Homo sapiens: one gene and its partners. The protein of the gene in region 4 interacts with the protein of the main gene of each other region in a biochemical or structural test. Each region holds a gene or a part of one and is shown on either strand. Other genes may lie near its edges.

The links.
Region 1: the proteins of APBB2 (region 4) and NFKB1 form a complex in vitro, tested with the Homo sapiens proteins (one study listed by BioGRID).
Region 2: the proteins of APBB2 (region 4) and WWOX form a complex in vitro, tested with the Homo sapiens proteins (one study listed by BioGRID).
Region 3: the proteins of APBB2 (region 4) and MAPK8 form a complex in vitro, tested with the Homo sapiens proteins (one study listed by BioGRID).

Annotation. Positions count from the first base shown.
Region 1 is NC_000004.12:102,507,287-102,512,561, reverse strand, and holds part of NFKB1 (nuclear factor NF-kappa-B p105 subunit), read right to left. Parts: intron 1,683-5,275; exon of another isoform or gene 1,630-1,682; coding exon of another isoform or gene 1,613-1,629; intron 1-1,612.
Region 2 is NC_000016.10:79,210,339-79,214,370, reverse strand, and holds the end of WWOX (WW domain-containing oxidoreductase), read right to left. Parts: exon of another isoform or gene 2,764-4,032; coding exon 2,575-2,763; 3' UTR 1,704-2,574; downstream 1-1,703. UniProt on the Homo sapiens protein: Putative oxidoreductase. Acts as a tumor suppressor and plays a role in apoptosis. Required for normal bone development. May function synergistically with p53/TP53 to control genotoxic stress-induced cell death.
Region 3 is NC_000010.11:48,309,105-48,314,379, reverse strand, and holds part of MAPK8 (mitogen-activated protein kinase 8), read right to left. Parts: intron 1-5,275. UniProt on the Homo sapiens protein: Serine/threonine-protein kinase involved in various processes such as cell proliferation, differentiation, migration, transformation and programmed cell death.
Region 4 is NC_000004.12:41,207,207-41,212,918, forward strand, and holds part of APBB2 (amyloid beta precursor protein binding family B member 2), read right to left. Parts: intron 1-5,712. UniProt on the Homo sapiens protein: Plays a role in the maintenance of lens transparency, and may also play a role in muscle cell strength. Involved in hippocampal neurite branching and neuromuscular junction formation, as a result plays a role in spatial memory functioning.

The sequences.
Region 1 (5,275 bases), about 61 Mb from region 4:
GACCCCATCTCTACAAAAATTTTAAAAAGTAAAATAAAATTAAAATTTTGCCAGGTGTGGTGGTGCATGCCTGTAGTCCCACCTACTTGGGTGGCTGAGGTGGGAGGATAGCTTGGGACCAGGAAGTCGAGGCTGCAGTGAGCCATGATTGCGCCACTGCATTCCAGCCTGTGTGACAGAGCGACACCACATCTCAAAACAAACAAACAAAACAAAACAAAACAACACACATACAGATGTCAATGTATAAACTGAGTGGGGAGAAATAGGTGAACTATACCTCTCTCTTCTATGTCTGATAACATCAGATGTGAATACTTCTTTCTCCCATGTCTCTGTCAGTGACCCTGGCTACTTGGTATTAAGCAAAATATTTACTTTTACATTCATAAGTAATAAGTAAATGAGAATGTAATCTGTTTTCTATTTTTTACTAACAACTGAGGAAAAACAGTATTTTGTTTAGTGAGGAATATCTGAAATGAACTGAGCTTAGAGCCCAACTGACACAGCAGAGTTCCCGCTGGTGTGAAGCTCATTATTAGCACCTTGGAATAATGAATTCATTCAGTCAACGCTCCATTGTCTATGTGGATATATATGAGTCACAGAATTGACATACATATAATCCAAAAGTTGTTTGTGAAATCTTTTAAATGACAGTGGAGGGAAGGGGTCCTAACTAAGAAAGGGCAGATAGGATGCTTTTGCAGTGCTGCCAGTGTTCTATTTCTTGACCACCCACTAGGTTAAACGTGTTCACCTTGAGATAAATCACTAAAGTTGCAGCATTAATATTTGTGTACTTTTTTAGCTATGGGATTCTTCAACTTAAAAAAGGCTAATGTAAAAATAAAGTTTCTCTTTCTATTTTTTTTTTCCTTTTTTGAGACAGTCTTGCTTTGTTGCCTAGACTGGACTGCAGTGGCACAATCGCTGCTCACTGAAGCCTCAACCTCCCAGGCTCAAGTGAACCTCCTACCTCGGCCTCCTGAAGAGCTGGGACCACAGGCATGTGCCACCATGCCCAGCTAATTTTTAAATTTTTTGTAGAGACTGGGGTCTCGCTATTTTGTCCATGCTGGTCTCAAATTCCTGGGTTTAAGCAATCCTCCCTTCTCGGCCTCCTGAAGTACTGGGATTACAGATATGAGCCACTACGCCCAGCAAGAAAATTTTAAAAACTGAAAAGACTACATGATTTAAGCTCCATGAATTTCTGGATTTCTGTCTTGTTTGGCACTGTGTGCCTTGTCCTTAGAACTGTGTCTGGCACATAGAAAGGACTCAACATATATTCAAATAAATCACTGTTAAAGAAATAAAACCCTACTTATGTTAATCAGCTTGATTTAATCATTTCACAATGCATATGTATATCAAAACATCATCTTGTGTACCATAAACATATATAATTTCTGTCAACTGTACTATACTAAAGCTGGAGGTCAAAAAAAAGGAAGGAAAAAATAATAAAAAAATAAAAATCACACTATACGAAGATGGAAGAGCTTCTATAAACAAGCAATGCTTCCCCTACTCCACCCCTCCTCATCTCCAATCCTGCTTTTTAAAGGCTGACTTTTTAACACTCTTTTTCTTTTTAGTTTACCTGGTGGTTCTTTTCATATCTCCAAGATATGCTTCTGTCTTTTTTCTTGATGTAGGACGTTGTGTTCCTTCTAGGAAGGAACAGAGGAGGATTCAGCTCATACTACCACCACCTCCCCTTCTTCTCCCTCCAAATATAGTTATAATTAGTGAGACCTTGAATCAATCTAGCATTTAAATATTAAACTTTACATTCAATTTTTGTCTCAAGTTTTCCATAAATTTCTTTGGAGAAATATGAATGCGAGAGACTGAATAATAATGAAAAAATGCAACACCAGAAACATCTGGATTTGAGAAAGAACCTACACTGAGACCAAAAATTATAACTTATTATCGACAAAATGGGCAGTTCCTCATATTATCATACTGATAATCAAGAATTGGCTTGGTACTTACTCACATGCATTTTTCTTAAGTTGACCTATCTTGATATGGCAAGAAAATCTGAAGTCTTCCAATTAATACAATTACATCAAAGAAACACATAATTTTAGAGAGAGATGCTCATTTTGTCAAACCTCATTTTTTTTACAGAACAAAAATAAGACTCAGAGAAGTTAATTAACTTGCTCAGAGCCACACAGTTAATTGGCAGCACTGTCTCTTGATATCTTGTTCGGTATTTACTTATTCAGCAAACACACCAGGTGCTGTGCAAATAAAAAGTAAATAAGATGAACTCCTTGCCCTCAAGATGTTTCTTTTCTAGGACCCACAGGAATTCAGGAGAACACAGAATGGGGGCACATAACTCTTTATGGAAAGGGGAGGGAGAAAACAGAAAGGCAAGTGAGAGAAATGGTGATGCTCAAACCAGGCCTAAGGGTTTAGAAGTTAGCAGGATGGCTAGGAAAGAAAAGGCACTTCTCATACAGGGAGGGCATAAGCAAAGGCATTCAAAGTCAGAAACTGTGGATAGGAAACTGAAAGTCGGTGTGGAGGATTTGAGATTAGGGGATGGTTGGGGAACACCGGAGGGAGTAAGGGGGTGAGGTGTGCGAGAATCAGCTTGTGAAGACAACTGGGATTCACTGCAGAGACATGATCCGATTTACACTTTAGAAAGCTGACCATTATGCGAAATGAACGATGGGTTAGAAGCAGGAGACAATGCAAAAATAAAATCTAGAAATTCAACGAGGAAGGGATGGATTCTGGAGATGAGGAGGCTGCCTTGATAGAACTTGGTGACTGACTGAAGAAGAAAGCTGAATGTATAAGAAGGGCTTCTAGATTTCTGGCATGAGAAATCTACTGAATGGACCCTAACAGGCTAACAACCGCATTCCCTAATGTGCTGGGGATACCAATCTGTGCAAAGGGGTGGGGATCAAGGATGATGAGAAATTTAATATTGGCATATAGATGTGAAGATACTTAAGTGCCTCAGCAATAAAATCATTTCTGTAGCTTGCCTTGAATGACTGGACTCCTACAGTTCAACAGATACTCAGTAAATATAGCACAATTACTCCAAAAGTCATCTATTTCAACACAGGATTGAACTACCTCTCTAAGCAACTTGGATTGACTCCTATTTGGCTATTACAGAAGACTTTCTAAGAGAAATGGGATACTTCCCCACCCATCACAAAAAAAGAATTGTAACTGCAGGGTAAATGATTATGTAATGGTTTAAAATAGGAAATATTTTTAAAGTTTCTAAGGATTGCTTTTTAAATTTGGTTAAATGTCTTAAATGGGAAATCGAGTAAATATATAAAGAGACACCATAAAGACATTATCTCAAATTAACGCTATGATATGGTATGAGAGTGAGTAAATGCATTTGACTATTGTTGGACTGCTGTGCTTTTGATTTTAATTTCCCAGGTACTTATATTTGCTTGATCGCAACTGACTTCTAAAGTGTTTTTTCATAATGTGGTGAAAAGTCCATTCTTACCAGTTTAGCAAAAATATGATAATCCATTATGAAATGTCTGCCGAAAGGTTCTATCCAAGGGCAATCTCTCTTACTTCTTTCATTATGACCCTCCATGAGATGAGATATACAATTTATCTCATTGTATTTCTCAACCATGAGATATATGATTTGTCCTTTTATTTATAATTCTCATTCACTTTCTAGATTATTCTATCTTCACATTCAAGTTGATAACAAAGTTTAAGTCTTAGTTTTATAGAGGACTCTTCCCCCTAAATCTTTATGCTTTCATTATCCTTTGCTTTGACCAATCTTTCAAAAGACTCAGGTTTAAAATCACATACACATATACAAACGATGCTTAACCTATTCACCTTATCATGTATTAGCAGTATAATAAATGAATGCATTAAATGAATAGGGTAGAGAAATGGCTATATTTTTGGTTCATTTTAAGCCATCTCCTCTGAAAAGTAGTTCCCCAGGTTTTTTGCTTGGTTTGAAATTAGCAGTATGAACACACTAAAAATTTTTTTCCTATTTCCTAGATTGTATATTCAGTTTTCAGTTTTGATTTTACGTAAATCAATTGCTGATTTAAGTACTTTCCTGACTATCCAACTGAGCAAAAAATTAAGTGTAATTTAATTTTAATTCTTAACATTGCTTTCAACTTCTAATTTCCTCTACATAAATAGCCACCCACACATGCTTCTTCCATCATTCCACATCATCATCATTTTAATTTTATAAATCATGAAGGTTCTTGTATTATATGCAGATGCTATAAATTGTAAGGTATTCTCCTCTGGCCTCATTACCAAGTCCATACCCCATTTAAAAGAAAAAGACACTGAAGGTTATAGATCAAGTCTTAACAGTCAAACACCAATACATGTTTAAGCCTTACAAAATAAGCCTATACTTAAGAACTGGTAGACAAAGAGGTTCTTCAAATATCAATAAAACATGATTTGGGAATTTGTGTTAAAACATCCAAAAATAGTTATTTTCTCATTCCTAAAATTCTTGTCATGGAAGACATATTTTCTAAGACAATTAAGTAATCTATTTTCACTATTTAAATGAACTGCAGGCTTGGGCTTAGAACCAATAAATAGGTTGATTAGGGAGTCTGTCATCACTTTTATGTTTTCTTTTTTACATACTTGTTATATGGTAGAATTGACGTCTGGGATAAAGAGGGATAGGTGTGCCCTAACACTGAAATATGGTATAGTATTTTCAGTCCAAATGACATGATAAATAATAAAAATAATTTTTTGAAATAACTGCTTTTAACAAATAAAAGTCATTAAAAACAAATTGCTTTTTAAAATGGGACATTATAGAGGTATGCTCAACTTTATGCAGGTCTTATACTTTCTTTAGTTCAAGTTAGTGAAAAGTAAATCCTAGAAATATTAGTGAGCCTCATTTATCAAAAAGGTTCACCTTGGCCAAGCTAGGTGGCTCACGCCTGTAATCCCGGCACTTTGGGAGGCTGAGGCGGGTGGATCACTTGAGGTCAGGAGTTTGAGACCAGCCTGGCCAACAGAGCAAAATCCCATCTCTACTGAAAAAAAATAAAAAATAAAAAATAAATTACAAAAAAAAGGTTCATCTCAAAGAAAAATCTAATAGCTTTATTTTCCAATATGAAATGCATGAATTGTCCATACATTTCTACTAGTAGCGTAAGGATTATAACAAAGTTAGAGCCTTGTTTGTTTTGTTTATGCTTCTCTTCATGCCCAGAAGCTGCAGACTGAA
Region 2 (4,032 bases), on a different chromosome or scaffold from region 4:
TGAACATAAAGCCTAGTCACCCAGAATCATTCTTTCAGTGGTTATTTATTAAGTCAGTAAGTTTGCTGTGTGACAGGAGCAGTTCAAGGTACTGTGGCCAAGTTGTGAAGAAAACAGACAAATTTCATGGAGTTTCTTATAGTGGGTAGACAGAAAAAATAGACACATAATGTGTACAATAATATTAAGTGTTGTGGAGAAAAAATAGAGGGGAAGGGGAATAAGAATGGGGTGACACCATGAAGACAGGGATAACGTGAGCAGAGACTAAAAATCAGTGAGGAAGAAAGGCATGCTGGTTTCTGGAAGGAAAGCATTTCAGCAGAGGAAACAGCAAATATGCACCCCTTGAGTTGGGAGTGTGCTTGGCATGTTCGAGGAACAGAGGAAGACTAGAGTGGCTTCTAGTGGATAAAGTGCTGGAAGTTGAGATTAGAGAGGTAGCTGGAGACCAAATTATAAGAGAAGTAGGGTAGAAAAAAATTAACCTTAGTGAGCTGAGAAGCTGTATCAGTTAGCTTTTGCTGAGTAACATGTAATCCTGAAACTTAGTGGCTTAAAATAAACTTTTACTATCTTTTGCATTGCTGTGAGTGAAATGTGCAGTTTCTTCTCCTCTGAATTGGCACAGCTGGGGCTGGATAGTCTGGGATGGCCTCACTTACATGTCTAACTAACTAACTGCTGGATGCCGGTTCTGGGAGTGACTACGTGTCTCTCATCATCCAGCAGGCTAGCCCAGGAGCCGTTCCCTATGATGGAAGTTGCAGGGTTCCAAAGATCAACAAGGAAAGGCAAGCCCCAGTGCAAAGCACTTTCCAAATTGGCCAAGGCCAGTCACATGGCCAAAGTCAGAGGTCATATGGGAGGGGTGATCCCCTCCAGGTGTAGATTCTGAGAGTGGAGTTCTGACGGCTGCTTTTGCAAATGACAATAATGTCTGAAAAGTGACATTATCTGATTCATAGTTTCAAAGGTCCTGTGATAATAAGGATTACGTAAGGAAGACTATAGCCAGATGGGAGGATGTGGCAAGGCTATGGGCCACTGGAGGGCAATGGTGTTTGTTTGTTCGACTGCTCTGCACCACAGATGCAGAGGCACAGAAGTTCAAGACATTGTCTGGCCTGAAGCTGCCATGATCAGGAGGGGGAACAATGACACCCAGCCTCCACACCTTCCTGGTATTTCAGCAGAAGCATTTTCTCCGTCTTGCCAGAGTGGACTTTCTCATGTGCTTGCTGGAACGGGCTGGAAATCATGGTGTCCATGAGATGGGATGCGCAGATAAGAGCTTCTGCACAGCTCCCATTCTCAAACATAGAGATACCCGCTAATCACTAAGTACTTGCTAATTGCAGGGGAGCAGACCATTGAGGACTAAAATAACTCACTGTAAGTAAGTAATAACAAAACATCTTAAGGTGAAATGAAACAATAGTCATTTTTCTTTTTTCTTTCTTTAACAGAAAATATGCTGGCATGCTAATCGCGTGAGACAACTTGGCCCACGGACAGCCACAAAGCACAAAAACAAAACACAAACTCACTCAGAGAAGAAACAAGAATCGTGTTTTCCTGGCATCTACGAGAAGCGCTTTATTAGAAGCGCTTTATTTTTCCTCTAGATTTCTTTTCTAAAAAATGAAAAACAAAAACAAACTGAAACAAACATTTAAAGAAACAATACAAACTTCAGGTGATGATATTCAAGCATGTTCTTTTATTAAGCATAGGATGCGAGGCACAGCAGGAGGTTTAAGTACAATGTGAAAGCAAGAGAACTGAGACTGTGATTGACAGACAAAGGGATTAACTAACGTTTTATTCTCTGCCCCCCAAAATATCCTGTGTATTCTTAAGTATATACGCTTCCCTTCCTGCCTTTCAAGGTATCTAAGGAATGATTTGAAAAATTTGTTATAATCTCTAAAGAATTTTTTGCATAGCATTAGCAAAGGAGTCTATGACAAGTACTTTGCCACCTGGTAGTTCTGCGTATTCTACTCCCTCTGGGTGTCACTGTCATCCTCACTGGCTGGGACAAGGTTCTGAGATTTGTCTCCCCAGCAGTTGCTAAGCTGGCTCAGTCTTGGTCAGGATGAATGAAACAATTATCTCCTGGATCAATGCAGCAAGGAGCAGTGAACACTTGCTTTTTCTTCCCTAAGTAGGAGAAGGCCAGCCCCCGGCTGCAGTGGTGGCCGTGGTGGTAGCTGGATGGGACGAGGGGACCTCAGGCTATTCTATAACAGTAAAAGAAAGAGAATTGCTGGTGCTTCTCCAGGGAGATACGGAACCTACACACCAAGCAGGTTTTTACTTTCAAACAGGCCACCACCAGAAAGCAAAGAGACCTATGCCTAGCCCAGCCCCAGAAAAGTGATACTTTACCCCAGGAATTCCCTGCTTCCCATTGGTACTTAAGATTTTTCACTCTGTTGTGACTGCTCTTATTTCCTTTACTCTTGCGGATCTGTGTTGGAGGGACATTTGGAAGGGGCCCAGCCCTGGCACTTGCGTGAGGGGACACACACAGGGCGGGTGTGTGTGCCCATCCGCTCTGAGCTCCACTTAGCCGGACTGGCTGCCAAGCCGTTCTTGGATCAGCCTCTCGCTGAGCGCCCACAGGGTCCGGGCCGTCTCTTCGCTCTGAGCTTCTGGTGAGGGCATGCAGCGGCAGCAGTTGTTGAAGTACATCCCTCCCAGACCCTCCAGTTCTGGGACAGCAGCACAGTACACGGTGGTGGCAGCTCCCTGTTGCTGGAAATCCAAGAAGAAAGACAAAAAAAAATTTTAAGAAAAGGAGTGATGAGATGGCGTCATTTCGACTGCCTGGGCATTAGCAGGCCTCCCCCACCTGGTTCAGTTTCAGCTGGATCTTGGCATAGCAAAGGGTACTGGGCTGAAAGCACATGACTGTAAAAAGTATAATGTGACTATCCTGGAAAAACGAGTTCATAAACTCCGCTTGTAAAGCTGGTGTAACTTTTGACACCTCATACAGGGACAGGCTTGGAAAATAAATACACATATCAATACGTCGTGGCAGGCGCCTCTTCCACACAGAGAAAAAGATGGTATCCTTCTGAACGTGCAAGAACAAATTCATCCAACCCCTCAACTTCTCCATGTATAATGTAATTCGATACCAAATCGTTTGTAGAACCTTCTGTCTGACAAACCAACCACTCTTAATTGTGGTCCATCAGGTAGAAAACCCAAGTGGGGCTGCTGCCAGATCATCCCTTTATGCTTTGCCCACGGTGCTGCTAGGGGAAGGGTTGGCAATGTTGTGTTAAAACATTTAATGCACACACACACACACACACACACTCCTCACCATACATTCATACTTAGCACAAACACATAACACATTAATTCATCCAGATCCCATGAAAACCTTTTTCTAAATGTCATATTTGACCCAGATTTACAATGGGACCACAGGTAAGGGGGTACATTTCCTCCCAGCCCACTTCAAAATGTAAGTTGCAAAGAGTGCAGCTGATCACTTTCATTCACCTTTTGAGTAACAGTTGCGGCTGTGGCTAGGGACGTGTGCAGTGATGAGGCATCATATCATCCAAACTGACAGAATACTGTCAGGGATGCTATAAAGAGGGCAAGAAATCACTTTGCTTTGCAAGCCATAATTAAAAATAATAGGCTGCTGTTCAGAGGGAGACATGGTCGGCACGTCTCTAATTTAAAACCAATACAGTTTATCTGGCATCTTATGATTATTTATGTGTTTCAGAGCCCTAGCTGCATCCACTAATTTTCAGCTGATGAGAGGGAGAGGGGTTGCAAGAGAGGACCGGAAAAGGTAACTGAAGATAAGCTCGCCCCCACAAGGAAAACACTAAGGAACTTTGATTGTGGGGGAAATGGCTTTCCGACCCGACCCAAAGCTTATCATTTTTCTGCCCCTGCAGGGTTTACATTGTGACCATGCAGGGTGCTTACTGGAGGAGTTTCCCTCAAATGGTCTGGTTTGCAATCACTATGCTTGCATTCTAGGATCCCTGG
Region 3 (5,275 bases), on a different chromosome or scaffold from region 4:
GAAGGCCTACCCTCTAACTTGATAGTATCTGGAGGAGAGACCTTTAGGAGTTAACTAAGCCTCTCATGACTATATTAGGTCATGAGGGTGGAGCCCCCATGATAGGATGAGGAACAGACTAGAGCTCTTAGGGGCCATGTGAGGATACATCCAGAAGCCGGCCACCTATAAAGCCAGGAAAAGGACCCTCACCAGGGAACCAAATTGACTAAGTAGCCTAATCTTGAACTTCCCGACCTCCAGAACTGTGAGAAATAAATTTCTGTTGTTTAAACCACTCAAGTTATGGTATTTTGATATAGCAGCCCAAACAGAGTAAGACAAATGGAATACCACAAAGATGTTAAAAAAGCATGCCATTTACATACTGATATGACTGATATAAAATAATCTCTCAGCTATATTAAAACAAAAAGCAGGCCACGTGCGGTGGCTCACACCCGTAATCCCAGCACTTTGGAGGCCAAGGCAGGTGGATCACCTGTAATCCCAGCTACTCAGGAGGCTGAGGCAGGAGAATCACCTGAACCTCGGAGGCAGAGGTGGCAGTGAGCTGAGATTGTGCCACTGCACTCCAGCCTGGGCAACAAGAGTGAGACTCCGTCTCAAAAAACAAACCAACAAGCAAAAAACAAAAAAGCAAAAGGTGATACATATTGCATGCAACAACTTACATTAAATAAAAAGGGAGGGAGCAGAGCAGAGGCTATACAGTACTGTATATATGTATGACACCTATCCTTCATTGGCAAAGCCAAAATCCATAAAGCTGTGAAAAATACGTTTTTAAAATAAGTTTAGTACAAACGTATTTGGTGGTAAAACCTGACGAGACGTAGCATAAGATTTTATAATCTTTATTCACCCTACTTGTATTTGTTATGCTTTTATAAAAATATTAATGTCTTTGATTATTTCTGGGTGTTGTTGTTGTTGTTGTTTTTTGAGACAGAGTCTACACCTCTGCCGCCCAGGCTGGAGTGTAGTGGCACGATCTCAGCTCACTGCAACCTCCGCCTCCTAGATTCAAGAGATTCTCCTGCCTCAACCTCCCAAGTAGCTGGGATTACAGGCGTACGCTACCACGCCCAGCTAATTTTTGTATTTTTAGTATAGACGGGGTATCACTATGTTGGCCAAGCTGGTCTCAAACTCCTGACCTCAGGTGATCCGCCCGCCTCGGCCTCCCAAAGTGCTCAGATTACAGGCGTGAGCCACCGCGCCTGGCCTATGTCTGTATTTTTTACAGAAATGTTAATGTGTTTAATCATGAGGCTACAACCTCTTACTAGGGATTTTGGATAACACGGTAGATGTGCTACATTATCTTTCCACAACTGCAAAAAAAGCCTTCATTCTAAAATACATCTGGACCAAGGATTTTGAACAAAGGATTATATACTTAAACATATATAAACTATCTTTGGAAGTATTCACAGGAATTTTAACAGTTTCCAGGCAGAAGAACTAGGTGGCTACACAGAGTAGAAAAGGAGATTCTTTATCTTTTTAAATCTTTGGAATTTTGAGTCAAAGTGAATTCATTACTACTTAGTCAAAATATAAAATGTAAACAAATTAAAACATTAAGACTTTTAAATTCTCAATAGTAACAGCCAAAGCTAGATGCTTTGGTTTTTGTTTAACTGAAAAGTGACGCTTTCTCAAGTCACAGAAAAATCCACACAGCAGTAGCTTTTCTTTATCTTACCTTTGGTTGACCCAATGGCATCTGAAAATCAGAAAGCCATCCTTCCTGGAACAAGTCAGAAAATGGTGATTTTTCTACCCAATTAATGACTTTTAGGAAATAACATCTTATGGTTTTGATGTTTCCTGCCAAGCAAAGCAAGTGCTTGTGTGTGGCTATTTTTCGTTTCTAGTTTCCCCAGAAATATGGTGGGTGGCAGGCTTGAGTCTCTCAGCACCAAGAGGCAGTACTGGAGGACTATACTTCTCAATACTGGAGAGAGACTTTAAAAAGTGTTTCTAGTACAGATCCAGCCTTACATCATAAGAGCTTCAATACAGAGGAGATTGAGAACTCTGGTTAGTACCTGAGTAGCATCTTTTCTACTGTCAGCTTTTCATATTTCTCATATACTTATTTTGATACCCTGTTGTATTCCAAAATGAATTCATAAGGTTTGCCTTTTCTTATGATTTGGATTTTGACTAATGTGCACCACACTCTCAACTTAAACCAGGAATCAGAAAAGAAGATATCTTGCTTTCTCAGGTTTATCGAGTGAGTACAAAGGCATGGCAAGAGATGTAAGGTTTGGAAGGCCCCAAATGCCCCAATGACAAAAGAAATTCCTAATGAAATGACTAACAATATTTGCTTCCTTGTGTTAGGACATAAATGTGCTTACGTTAATCCTTATCTTCTATCAAATTATACTCAGCTCACTGAGGGTAGAAACTGACTTCTATTTCCTTTGGTTCCTACATCACCGAATACCTGGATTAGTATAGTGCAATGCTCAGTAAATACTGCCGAAGTAAAAACCAGTGTCATCTCATAGTAGATGCTCTTGAGAAGGAACAAGAAATTTAATCCACCATTATAATCATAGAAACGCTAAACAGAAGACTTAGAAAACCACAGAAAATACAGAAAAGATAATATTTCTAAGTGGTACTAATAAATAATCTCCCTCATTTTTTAAGAGGCCTCCAGGCCTCAATGAATTGTTGTGGTTACCAGGTCTCTGACAAATCTGCAATCTTCACAGAATCGAAGATCCCAATAACACTAAATTTAAAAGATGTGACAGCATTCCATTTTCTTCAAATGTGTCACATGATAAAGCTATTCGTAGCTCCTAAATTCTCATTCCTTTAGATGTCTATAACAAACCTAGGAAAGCTTAGGCAATTTTCTCCTGTGGGAAAAGGCAAAAAATCGTGAAAGTGGCAAATATGTTCCCTTCAATATTTGCTTCTGGAACATTTCCAAATTTTAAGATAGAGAGGATTACTGGTCCAAATGTTAATATAAATCATCTCAGTCAATTCAGATTACATGAGATGATCGAATTTTAAATAAACCCCCCAGAGATGCAGAGTGAAACAAATGGCATATTCTGGAGAATTAGAATGGACACTGTGCATTAAACTGGTTTGACGTTTACTTGGCATTTTATGTTTGTTCAAAGTTAAATATAAGTGATAACAATAGCAAAAACTACCTGAATACTTGTATCTAGCATTCCAGCCACCACAACAGTGCCAGGCACTTTACATGCAGTACCTAATTTAAACCTCACAGCCCTATGAGGTTACGTGCTATTATTATTCTCATTTGACAGATAATAAAACAGGCCCAAATATGTTATATAACCTGAACTAGCCTATACCACAGTTAGATTGGAGCACGATTAGAACTCAGGGCTGACCTTAAAACCCACGCTAGCAATCATTGTAAGGTTTGAGTTCCTTGACTTTCTAAAGAATGGCAGATTTTAACTAAATCTGAAATATAATAAAGGGTAACAGGAAACACAGGTATCTCTTGTATTTGTGATATAACCCACCTCCAAGAAAAAGAATGGAAGCTACTAAGTTTTCCAAAAAGGGGTCTCCTCTCTGTCTCTCTCCATGCACATACGTATACACACATACACACACACACACACACACACACAATTTTAAAAACTGGATTTCAGTGAAATTTGGCCTGCACAGAGATGTGAAGTGGGCTTTTGTTTGGCGGGAACCCTTTCATATACCTTTTAAAAGAGCATAAATTAACTGTTTAGCGATGCCTTCAGTCTAATCCTTGATTATAAGCTTCCTGAGGATAATGAACTCATTTTATGTCTTCCACAAAGTCTCTGGGAGCATACGGTCTCATTAGAAGGCATGATGCTGTGGAATAAATAAAAGCCTACCTTTCCAAGAATCTCTAGCTTATGGTGAAGCCTTCCATTTGTTTTCTAAGTCTGGATATTAAAGAAAAAATTCAACTCAACAATTTTTTTGGCTTCTGAAAATTACAAAATTACAAAATCCTAACTTTGACTACTGTTCTTAACTTAGGCTTCTGATTATCACCCAAGAAGGGCTCTTTTTGTCCTAGTATGTTTTCTCAAGAACCACCTATCTGAGGAACAAGCCTTCTATAAAAAAAAGTTCTGACAGCCTCAGTTTATACTTTTAAAGCCAAAAACATTAAGGCACTTGCCTAAAGCTCCAGAATTTGATGACAAAGTCCAGATGGCAGAACTGAGAAATGAACCTAGGTCTGATTCCTGGATTGCTCTAGCTCCACCTATTGACCTGAATGACAGGATAACTCATTTCAATACTCCTGTTACCTTTCAGTCAACTCACTTCTGAAATCAAAGTTCAACTTAACCTGCATTAAGAGTAAGAATGCAAGGCTTCTAAATGTTCAGGTAAAGAGCTCATGATTAAGACAATCAGCATCACAGTTCACTGACATAGGCAAATGATTCATATATAAAGCTATGTGGTTATAATGACTTCCTTGGACCACATGAATCAGAAAAGCTACTACCCATACCATTGACTTGACCAGAGACCTCTAGAGCACTGGAATCCTAATGTCAGACATTATTTTGTATTTCCACTCGTGCAACAAAGCATCTCAACCATGTAGATGACTGAAATATGTCAAAATTCAACCCGCTGGCAAAGCAGACCAACAAGAAGCAGGCTCCTATTCAACAACCTCTTAGCACTAGGATAGTTGGGGACTAGTCATTTAACAACAAATTCCTTCAAGTTGTTTCACTGAACATCTCATCCTCACAAGGTCACTTTGATAATATCAGGCATGGAGCAAATAGTTAAGATTATAACCACATTAATTTGTATACAATTTATTCTTGCACTGACTTCCTTTCCAAATGGCATTTCCCCCAGGATCTAAAGGAGTATGAAGGATATAGTTTCCTATTCTGCCAGGACAGGACATTTAAAAGGAGCCCTTTTCATACTTACTAAAGGAATATATTTACTAACAGAATCGATGCTATATCTCTTACTTTAAAGGATAATTTGAAGTGAAATTCAGAGTGACTGCTAATGGATATGGTGTTTCTTCTTGGGGTGATGACAATGTTCTGGAATTAGTGATGGTGATCAAGGCACAACACTGTGAAAATACTAAAAACCGAAATATATACACTCTAACTGGTGAATTTTATGTCAATTAAATTGCAATAAAGCTATTTTTAAAAACCAACAATTTGGAAAACAAAGTAACACAACTCTGGTTCTTTACACAGCCTGTGAGCTACTGCCA
Region 4 (5,712 bases):
AAAAAAAAAAAAAAAAAAAGGAAATAATTTGTTGTTATTGTTTTGACACTCCTTCTTCACCCCACAATAGCAACCAAAACTAAAGGTGAATAACAGCAATTCCATGAGCAAATCATTCTGAAGCTTCCTCCAGCAATTCAAGGCTCACCCTGGAGGGAATGATACTGCAGAGGTCTGGGCCAAGCTGGCTATTACACAATTCTAGGTTCTATGGCTTTCACCCATCACCATTTCCTAGAATCACTAACTAAGAATTGCTAAAGAGTGTTGTTTTGCCAGAAAGAGGCCTGCATGCAAAGAATCAAATGTCAAGATACATCTTGAGGTTCACCTGCTGAAATTCACACTTCAACCACTTGCCCATTCTGTTCCCTTACACCCTCATCTTTCATCTTGGTGCTTTCCTTGTCATTCTCAAGCTATAATTCAAAAATAGTCACTGGCTCCTAGGGCACTTTCAAAATTAGCTCATTCACAGTTCCTAGGACCTTGGGTGACTCTATATTCCTGGAAAGCCCAGGGGCCCCATCAGCTGACCCACAAACTCCACATGTTGGCCTGGCCTCCATGACTCAACTCAATCCCAAGGGCAGGCCTCCCTGCATCTCAGGCCCAGATTCCCAGACTTACCAATTTCATGGACCATTCAGCGGCTAGATAAAAATATTCCTATCAAATCATAAAAGAATCTTACCCAAAAATGAGAAAGGCATAGTATCAGAGAAAAGGACATATCTTCTTATTTGAACAATTATGACATATTCACTACATCATTATCATCATTGTGATAAGAACAGTGAAAACCACTAACCAACAATAAATGACCTGTGGGGCTAACATTATGCTCTGCATATAGGAGATACTCATTTACTTTTATATTGTGTGGAAACTGAGCTCTGACTTACACGACAGGGACACATCCCATACCTCCAGTAATGCCAGGCCTTCCTTCTTCAACAATGGCATTTCCCTTTACCCTCTGGAATTCCGCAAAGTCTCTCCAATCTATCTCACCCTCTTAAACACACGTTTTTCCTTCTACCTCGATTCCAATATTCTGCATTCTTTTTTTTGAGACAGAGTCTCGCCCTTTCACCCAGGCTGGAGTGCAGTGGCGCGGTCTCAGCTCACAGCAACCTCCACCTCCTGGGTTCAAGCGATTCTCCTGCCTCAGCCTCCTGAGTAGCTGAAATTACAGGCGTGTGCCACCATGCCCGGCTAATTTTTGTATTTTTAGCAGAGACGGGGTTTCACCATGTTGGCCAGGCTGGTCTCAAACTCCCGACCTCAAGTGAGCCACCTGCCTTGGCCTCCGAAAGTGCTAGGATTACAGGCATGAGCCACTGCTCCCGGTTTCTGCATTCTTTTTCATCAACTTAAAAAAAACGACACTCTTCCTCCCACTCTAAGCATTCCTGAAGCATACTTGCCAATGAGTTACACTTCGGGAACTTCAGTTATTACCTAGCAAACAAAGTTTGCAAGATTTCCACAAGAGGAAAAGAGAGGGTAGAACTGGTAAACTTTGTTTATAACCACTGTCAAGTCATTAACCAACAACAAAGAAAAGCTTTAATCCATCCTTTTCTATACCATTCATTTCTTTCCATGTTCTCTTCTCGTATTTGTCCATGTGAATCTGTACATTTTATATATCAATAAATTATATATTGGGATTTTTCTCTGATTATAAAATAAATATACGTCCATTACAGAAAACAAGATAAGATTCAAACACCATGGAAATAAATTATATAGAAAGGGAATATCTCCTGTAACTCTACACACAAAGAGCTCTAATACCTTTAAACTGATCAAGCTTCTTACTTCCTGCCCAGTTGTGTGACTTGACCTTCCACCCTCTATGCCCTTCCTCTCTCCCAGCTCTCATCTAATGTCTGGAGTTAATGACCCACTCCTAACAGGGGTCCAGGAACCCTGGAGCCTGGTTATTAGAGGAACTAGAGTCACTCTCCCTTTATTAAAAATTATTTCAATGGGATAACAACTCCTCACTGACTCACTTAAAGGTTAATGAGGCTGAGTTTTGTGAGCCTCTTGAAAGCAAAATGCACTAAAAACACCAAATGGGATTGGTTTCCTTTGCTCTCTGCCCCATCGCAGCTTGCCAAGAAAAAAGAAAAAAAAGCTCATGATCCTGCTAATGACACTGAGTAGACACATTTCACCAGCCACCACTCCTGCTACTGCAGCAGCCAATCACAGGCATCTGTCCAACACAGTGACAGGGCTAACGTCAAATGAGAGTGAAAGTCGTATTCCAGAGACCAAGGGCTGCATTTCTCATCGAGGCGAGGAGACAAAGGCTGGGACACAGGAAAGGCTTGCCAAAATTTCACAAGGGTGGGCCTGGGAAGCAAAGCACAGGACCCCCTCCCCTGCAGCCTAGGTAGAGGTTTCTTTCTCAGACTATCTGTGTGCTCAAGAGCAGAAAGTCTCCCCGCAGAAAATGCTATGAAGTAGTTTCAAATGTCGAATACACTTTACCCAAATCTAATCATTACCTTATCTGCTAACTAGACTGGCAGGGCCATAAAGTTAATTTTATGACAACCATTTTATAACAAATGAAAACTATAAGGGAAGTAGGAATTGGGCAAAAAAAGAAGGGCATTGGACAAAGCAGTGACAAACCAGACAGGGAAACACAAAATCACCTCCAAATAATGCTCTAAACCAGTGGTCTCCAGACAGCGTTCATGGAAGACAATTTTTCCACGGATGGGGTTGGGGATTGGGATGAAACTGTTCCAACTCAGATCAACAAGCAGTAGATTCTCATAGGGAGTGCACAACCAAGATCCCACACATGTGCAGTTCACAACAGGGTTCACAGTCCTGTGAGAATCAAATGCCACCACTGATCTGACAGAGGTGGAGCTCAGGTGGTAAAGGTCACTTGCCCGCCGCTCACCTCCTGCTCTATGGCCCGGTTCCTAATAGGCCACTGACCAGTTCAGGTCCGAAGCAGGGGGCTGGGGACCCCTGCTCTTAAACGAAGACCTCTCTCCTCGAATGGCTGCATCACAGATCTCTAGACTGGGACAAGAAGGACCCGATAGACAACCAGAGGGTGACTGCAGCTCTCTCATTTTACAGATGGGAAAACAGGCCCAGAGACATAACTGACTTTTTCCAGGTAACACAGTGAATTGAAGTAAGGGACAAGCCAGCCCCAAAGGCAAGTCTTTGGGGTCCCTGGTTAGTAGTCTTTCCTCCAAATCCCCCCAGACCCTTTATTATGGAGAGTCTGTTACTCTGCCTCTGACAAACCATTTCGGCTGAGAGAAATGCCGTCAACACATATCAGCATGCAGAATATGCACTAATAACACATTAAAATCAAAATGGCTAATCTGGGTTTATCTTCTGACATCTAATTTCATTTGTTGGTAGTGCAACATTATTGAAAATAAATGAACACAAAACAGTTTTAAAATCTGGATAGAACCTTCTTGAAAACATTCAAATCATTCTGAAGATATGCAGTTCCAATCAAATTTAATTCTAAATAACAAATCAAAGATGCTTTAAAAGAGAATGCTTACTGAATAATAATGGAATCAATTAAAGATATTTTCATATAAGATAAAAGTTTAAAGCTCTATTGCTGTGAAATCACGAGCATCTACCTTTTCAGAGGGGTTTTCTTAGACAGCTGACATTTATGCATAGATGCTTACAGCATAAGATGATATATACAAAACCTTAATAGGATAATAGGACACATAAAAAGCACTGAACAGACCAGGCGTGATGGCTCACGCCTGTAATCCCAGCACTTTGGGAGACCGAGACTGGTGGACCTCCTGAGGTCAGGACTTGGAGACCAGCCTGGCCAACATGGTGAAACCCCATTTCTACTAAAATTACAAAAATTAGCCAGGCGTGGTGGCGGGCACCTGGAATCCCAGCTACTCAGGAGGCTGAGGCAGGAGAATTACTTGAACCTGGGAGGTGGAGGTTACAGTGAGCCAAGATCGCGCCACTACACTCCAGCCTGGGTGACAGACTGAAACTCTGTCTCAAAAATAATAATAATAATAATAATACTAGGCACTGAACAAATGCTGGTTTCCTAACCCCATGTAGGAAAATAAGTATTCCCCCCATAACCAGTAATAACTTATTACAATATTTTCCTAAAAGTCTGTCCCACCTGCTCCCCTCCCCCGCCCCCGGAAAACTTAAGGTGTTATATCACAAGGGTATTGTCCAGTTTTGTTTTGTTATTTATTTACTTATTTATTTATTTTATTTATGTATTTATTTTGAGACGGAGTCTCACCCTTTTGCCCAGGCTGGAGTGCAGTGGCGCGATCTTGGCTCACTGTAACCTCCACCTCCCAGGTTCAAGTGATTCTCCTGCCTCAGCTTTCCCAGTAGCTGGGATTACAGGCGGGAGCCACCACACCCGGCTAATTTTTGTATTTTTTTAGAGACGGGGGTTTTACCTCTTGGCCAGGCTGGTCTCAAACTCCTGACCTCAAGTGATCTGCCCGCCTCAGCTTCCCAAAGTGCTGTGATTATAGGTGTTAGCCACCGTACCCGGCCAGGTATTGTCTATTTTTAAAATGAAATTGAAAAAGGTACAGAGACACGACATACCATTTTTCTTATTTTTTCCTTCAACTTTTAAGTTCCAGGTACGTGTGCAGGATGTGCAGATTTGTTACACAGGTAAACATGTGCTATGGTGGTTTGATGCACAGATCAACCCATCACCTAGGTATTAAGCCCAGTATCTATTAGCTATTCTTCCTGATGCTCTCCCTTCCATTTTTCTTAAAAGATAAATTTAGATATCCAGTACTCAGGATAGTCCACACACATCATTATTCTAATATTATGACAAGGCTTTCAGTATTCATTCCTGTGGTAACAGAAAAATAAAAGAATTCAATGTTCATATGCTGTTTTTCTGGTGGCAGGAAAAGAAAACAGTCATCAAAAGGTTGAAACATGACAAAAAGTACCAGTTTAAAAATATTTTATGTTTGTACATGTGGATTCTTACAATATATGCAATAGTTTTTTCCCAAGTAATTTTGGAGTCAGTATTCACATTACTCCAGCTAAGTGTAAACACCAGTATTTTGCACTTTAGCTCATCAAGCTTTCTTTTTTTCAGAAACAGGATCTCACTCTGTTGCCCAGGCTGGAGTGCAGTGGCGTGATCATAGCTCACTACAGCCTCAAACTCCTAGGCTCAAGCAATCCTCCCACCTCACCATCCAGCTTTTCAATTACCACTTTATAAAAATTTCAGAAAGCCAGTTCACATTGGCTCCTTGAAGGTGAATTTATTCAGTTAAAAGTATCCATTAGAAGAGGGAATAAAAGCATAGGACCTAAAAACCTTCTGTGGAAAGGATCTCAACTTTAGAGTCGTCTCTCAAAGGCTCTCAGCAAATATCTAGAGACGTGGTTACATCCAGTTTACGAAGACTGTCGGTGACTTCGGGGTCATACAGTACATGGACAACGAAAGAACAGCAATTGAAATCTTGTACTTGTACCCCACCACCTTCCGCCCTATGATCAACCCACTGTACTCTACTGCCACCTGTGTTCTCTCGGCATTTCCCCAGCCTGGAGGTTTCCCCATTCTCGCCACAAATACCATCCTTCACGAACGATGCCATTTCTAGGATGTTGCAAGTTATGATAAACAACTGTTGAACAAATATT